Regions from separate parts of the Homo sapiens genome. Here region 2 is linked to region 1. Evidence: fine-mapped expression QTL. A gene starts in region 1. The other region holds a variant in brackets. All regions are shown on one strand. Distances are between the middles of the regions.

Region 1 (2,908 bases):
GTTGCAGTGAGCTGAGACTGCGCCATTGCACTCCAGCCTGGGCAACAGAGCAAGCCTCCATCTCAAAAAAAAAAAAAAAAAGAATCTTTGTTGAGGAATACAGATTGAGCTTGAACTTGTGAACTAGGATATTGGGCCCTGGCTAAAGGCCTCCATGTTTATTTATTTATGTATTTTGGTAGAGCTGAGAGTCTCATTATGTTGCCCAGGCTGGATTTGAACTCCCGAGCTCAAGTGATCCTCCTTTCTCAGCCTCCCGAGTAATTTACTCTTATTCCTGGTTGTAAATGTTAGGGATGACCAGTCCATAGCATGGGGAGGGATGAGGGCTATGCATAAGAAGGCTCAGACATTGGAGCCTCCAGAGGTGGGTAACATTTGCTTTCGGGTTTCTCACTGGGGGAAGGAAAGGCTATGGCCAAAGCCCTGGGCATAATTTATATATGGATCTTTGGGATAAGCAAGATTTAAACAACAACAACAACAACAACAACAAGAAACTTAAAAAAACAAGTTTTTAATTTACAGGAAAAAAATGGAAGGTAATAGAGGGTCCCCACATATTCTGCACCCAATTTCTCTTTTTATTAACATCTTAGCATTAGTATTATGCATTTGTAACAACTAATGAACTAATATTGATACATTATTATTAATTAAAGTCCACCCTTTATTTAGATTTCCTTAGTTTTTACCCAGTATTCTTTTTCTCTTCCATGATCGCATTCAGAAAACCACATTACATTTAGTCATCAGGTCTCCTTAGCCCTCTTAGTTGTGACAGTTTCTCAGAATTCCTTTGATTTTGATCACCTTCACCTTAGTTTCCTCTTTACTTTCCCTTGTATCCAAGCTGTATGGAGGGCCTGGAGATTCTGATAGGACTGTAAGATTCGGGGACGGTGATATGTGTGCAACTAAGGCACCTCGGTGTCGCTTTTAGAATATAGTTGTGGAAATGAGAATAGCTCTGGTAGCTCCAGGGGCTTAGGAGAACAGAAAGAGCCCAGGAAAGGAGAAAGACCTTATTGCTGAACGCCACACCCTTGCCCCCACGCCACACCCTTGCCGCACCTACTAACTAGGGGCTAACGAATGAAAGGGTGTCGGAATATGATGGAGAAGCCCGGTCGACAGTGACGTCGTGGGCGACGCCGGGTTGTGAGCGGCCTTTCGAGCTCCCTCGAGTCCCTGAGTCTCTGTAGTGCCTCAGCTCCTGGATGTCCTCCCTTAAAGGAGAAGAACAATGCGGGCCGACTAGACGAGTCCCTTAGTTTCCTCGCCGGCGCAGACAAATACGGTTTCAGTCCAAGGAACTACCATTCCCAGAAGACAGCGGGGCGTTCCTTGCTGCATTTCTATTGGTTGGCGTTTGTTACTCCCAGCCAATAGAAAGTGAGCTTCTTGACAAGTGCCAAAATGGCGATGCCTACCACCTAGAACTGGATTGTGCGGTAGGCTTAAATTTGGGGAGGTGGTGGATGAAAAGGAAATTGGGAGGTATAGTTACAGGGCTGGAGAAGGTGGAGGAAATGAGGGAGCAAATCTGGACTTGGAATGGTGGTGGCCAAGGGACGCTTTTAGAGCTAAGGGCGTAATTAGGCAACCAGGACTGCCTTAACTCCTTGATGCCCTGTTTAATCTATTAGTCCCTTTGATACTTCTTTATTCATTTATTTGAGAGACGGAGTTTTGCTCTTGTTGCCCAGGCTGGAGTGCAATGGTGCGATCTCGGCTCACCCCAACAACCTCCGCCTCCCGGGTTCAAGCGATTCTACTGCCTCAGCCTCCCGAGTAGCTGGGATTACAGGCATGCACCACCAAGCCCGGCTAATTTTGTATTTTTAGTGGAGACGAGGTTTCTCCATGTTGGTCAGGCTAGTCTCGAACTCCTGACCTCCGGTGATTCGCCCGCCTCTGCCTCCCGAAGTGCTGGGATTACAGGTGCGAGCCACTGCGCTCGGCCGATACTTTCTTAGTGCCCCAGTTTAAGGAAGGGCGGTTCAGGAGGAGAGAGTCTGACAGGATCTTACTTTATCCCTTTAGCTCTTTTTCTTTCAAATTCCTCTGTCTCGCTTAAATCTTCCCGCATCTTCTCCTTTCTATTTAATTCTGCCTTCCCCGGTTCTCCTTAGAACCTCATGTCCTTTTCTTTAGCTCCATTTCTTTCACCTCAAAGCTGGCCGCCACCGCTGCCACCTGCTCAGAGTGAAATAATGAAGGTGGTCAACCTGAAGCAAGCCATTTTGCAAGCCTGGAAGGAGCGCTGGAGTGACTACCAATGGGCAATCAACATGAAGAAATTCTTTCCTAAAGGAGCCACCTGGGATATTCTCAACCTGGCAGGTCTCAAGTGAACTGGGAAAGAAAGATGGGAGGGATAAACCCAGAGAAGTTGTAATCACTCAGTTGTGTTTTGCTATTCCTCTTGCAGATGCGTTACTAGAGCAGGCCATGATTGGACCATCCCCCAATCCTCTCATCTTGTCCTACCTGAAGTATGCCATTAGTTCCCAGGTAAGCTTCCCGCAAACCCCCACCAAGAAGTGAGAGTTCTGGGGGTAAAAAACTTGGAGTGCATTTGGGCCCCGGTGGTTCATGGCTGTAATCCCAGCATTGTGGGAGGCTGAGGCAGGCGGATTGCTTGAGCCCAGGAGTTCAAGACCAGCCTGCGTAACATGGCAAAACCCAGTCTCTACCCAAAAATACAAAGAGTTACCCCTGCGTGGTGGTGCCCCTGTAGTCCCAGCTACTTGGAAGGCTGAGGTGGGAGGATCACCTGAGCCCTGGGAGGTCGAGACTGCAATGAGCCATGATCCTGCCACTGCCCTCCAGCCAGAGCAACAGAGTGAGACCCTGTCTCAGGAAAGAAACAAACAAACACAATTTGGGGTGCAGTTGTACAATT
Region 2 (2,908 bases), 27 kb after region 1:
CCAAGCCCCTGACCCCAGGGCGTGCAGGGAGGCTGCGCGTTGGGAGGAGGTAGCAGGGTAGGAGTCAGGTGCCTGGGTCTGGGTCTCATCCAGAGACCCACGGGCCTAGGCAGAGCATCCTGGCTGGAGATCTTGGAGGAAGGGCCTGTTCTCACGACCTAAGTGTTCCTTTCTCTTCAGCTGAGGATGGAGTGGACATGTTTGGTAAAGAGATGAGGGTAAGGGTTGAGGTGTTGAACATTGGGCATGGAGGAATTCCAAGTATGCCCAGTTATTAATAAGGGGCTCTCAAATTCTGTTGCCTTTTTTGATTGCCCTGGAATTTGACATATATAGAACATGGTTCCATTCAGTGAGCCATTCTCTAGGCCTTGGAAATCTTCTAACAATAAAAATCCTTCTGGCCGGGTGCGGTGGCTCACGCCTGTAATCCTAGCACTTAGGGAGGCCAAGGTGGGCGGATCACCTGAGGTCAGGAGTTCAAGACCGGCCTGGCCAACTTGGTGAAACCCTGTCTCTACTAAAAATACAAAAAATTAGCCGGGTGTGGTGGCGGGCACCTGTAATCCCAGCTACTTGGGAGACTGAGGCAGAAGAATTGCTTGAACAGAGGCGGAGGTTGCAGTGAGCTGAGATTGTGCCACTGCACTCCAGCCTGGGTGACAGAGCGAGACTCTTTCTCAAAAAAAACAAAAAAAAAACAAAAAACAAAAACCACAAAAACCTTTTTTCTATAGCAATGTGTCTCATTTTAAGTTTAACCAGTAACTCAGACTCTAGCTATCGCTCTCTGAACATGTGTAGCCCCAGCGCCCAGCTACTGCTCAGCTCATGCCCTGGTCAATGCAGCCTGTCTCCATTCCTTTCAGTTTGAATGAATTCACAACCTATGGCAGCGAAGAAAGCAGTAAGTCAGCCCTGTGCATCCGCAGGCCCAGTGGGCCCTGAGGAGGGGTGTGGCGGGAGAGTGTGGGAGGGAGGAGGGCTCCCCAGCTCAACAGGGGGAGGCTGTGCTCCCTCCTCAGAGCCATGACCAATGGAAGCTTCCACAGAGCTTGAAAGTGGATAATGCTGGAAAAGGATTCTTCCCAGACCATCCCTGTGTCTCCTTCCCCCCCTCATCCCTTTACGACTTGGTTAGGTATGCCAGGAGAGGGTGCTGGGGGTCTTTGGTCTCAAGGAAGGGATGATGTTCCAGTTGAGACTCAAGAAAAGGATTCTGAGCCTCAGAGCTTTGAAGGAGCCACTTGGTCCCTGACCTTCCTAGAGGCAAATCCCGATCCCTGTCAACCCAGACACGGGCTCCCCCCTGCCCTCGTCTGGGAGCTCAGCCTTCCCGTCCTTCCACAGCCAAACCGGCCTCCGTCCGGGCCCTGCTGTTTGACATCTCCTTCCTCATGCTGTGCCATGTGGCCCAGACCTATGGTTCAGAGGTGAGAGAGGGGAGCGACCGGGACGGGGGCTCAAGGGAAGGAGGTAACCCGGAACTCTCCCCACCTCACTGCCTGCGCCCCCGCAGCCTCTCAGCCAGTTAGTTCTGTGGGCCTCAGAAACCAGGTGCCC[A/CA]CCCGGGCTGGAGTCCGTAGAGGCACCTTCAGCCCTATGTTCACATTGACCACTAGGTGGCAGCATTGCCCCCGTCTGGCTCCCTTAGACCAGTTCGTCCCCAGTCTTTGGGCTGGGCTGGAGCAGCAGCCTGGCGGGAAACAGTGCAGCCCCAGGTCCAGCGCTGGCAGGCGCCGCGCCCTCCCCACTCGGCTGGTGCCCCCCTTCCCCTTTCCCAGGTGATTCTGTCCGAGTCGCGCACAGGAGCTGAGGTGCCCTTCTTCGAGACCTGGATGCAGACCTGCATGCCTGAGGAGGGCAAGATCCTGAACCCTGACCACCCCTGCTTCCGCCCCGACTCCACCAAAGTGGAGTCCCTGGTGGCCCTGCTCAACAACTCCTCGGAGATGAAGCTAGTGTCAGTGGCCCGGGCGCCCACTCCAAGGGTGGCGGTGGGGGCAGGGTCAAGACCCGCTCCCTGAGCCCGTTCCTTGCTCCCCTGTGCTGACTTCTCTGCACACCCGCAGGCAGATGAAGTGGCATGAGGCCTGTCTCAGCATCTCAGCCGCCATCTTGGAAATCCTCAATGCCTGGGAGAATGGGGTCCTGGCCTTCGAGTCCATCCAGGTAGCCCCGCCTTCCCAGCAGCGTTTGCTCCCCTGAGACACAGAGCCAGCCAGTGATGACTTGTTATATTTCGTAAGGGCAAGAAGACCTTTAATCCAGGAGCTCATGTTTTGATATTGATATTTTGTGTAATCGTTGTCTTAGCTACTCCCTCTGGCCCAGGTAGCTCTGGGAAGATCAAACTTGTGGAGAGAGGTGTGGAATGTGGCCCGGGACTCCACCCGCTGCACTTAGCTGCCCGCAGAGGCTGAGAAGGTGATGTTGGCTCAAGAAAGGGAGATAGATGGTAGCCCATCACCTTTCCGTCTCCCCTAGAAAATCACTGATAACATCAAAGGGAAGGTATGCAGTCTGGCGGTGTGTGCTGTGGCTTGGCTTGTGGCCCACGTCCGGATGCTGGGGCTGGATGAGCGTGAGAAGTCGCTGCAGATGATCCGCCAGCTGGCAGGGCCACTGTTTAGTGAGAACACCCTGCAGTTCTACAATGAGAGGTCGGTAACCTGCCTTCCCTTCTCAGACCCTTCAAGTGTGTTGTGAGAAGTCAGCACATCCAATAACAAGCACCCCTCTCTTTTCTGACCTTCGCAAACACGCTACTTGATCACTCACTCACTTTCCTATTCATGCATTCACTCATCTGACTCAGCAAACATGTACTGTGTCTCTGTGGCAGAAGCGTTTATATGCCAGCACCTGCTGTGTTGTCAGAAATGCAGACCCTAAACAGGGTCTGCCCGCA

The links.
Region 2: its variant is fine-mapped to the expression of MED24 in sigmoid colon (GTEx, PIP 0.97).

The regions. Positions count from the first base shown.
Region 1 is chr17:40,052,907-40,055,814 of GRCh38, reverse strand. MED24 (mediator complex subunit 24) reads left to right here and starts at 1,407. Exons shown (of 26, transcript NM_014815.4): 1 at 1,407-1,454; 2 at 2,180-2,346; 3 at 2,435-2,517. The coding sequence starts at 2,217. RefSeq lists an enhancer at 1,148-1,207.
Region 2 is chr17:40,025,908-40,028,815 of GRCh38, reverse strand. MED24 (mediator complex subunit 24) reads left to right here. Exons shown (of 26, transcript NM_014815.4): 15 at 870-907; 16 at 1,351-1,433; 17 at 1,782-1,960; 18 at 2,070-2,169; 19 at 2,485-2,660. MIR6884 (microRNA 6884) reads left to right here and starts at 2,407; the gene lies at 2,407-2,484. SNORD124 (small nucleolar RNA, C/D box 124) reads left to right here and starts at 1,171; the gene lies at 1,171-1,274. RefSeq lists an enhancer at 1,259-2,169. The variant A/CA (reference allele first, on the strand shown) is at 1,564.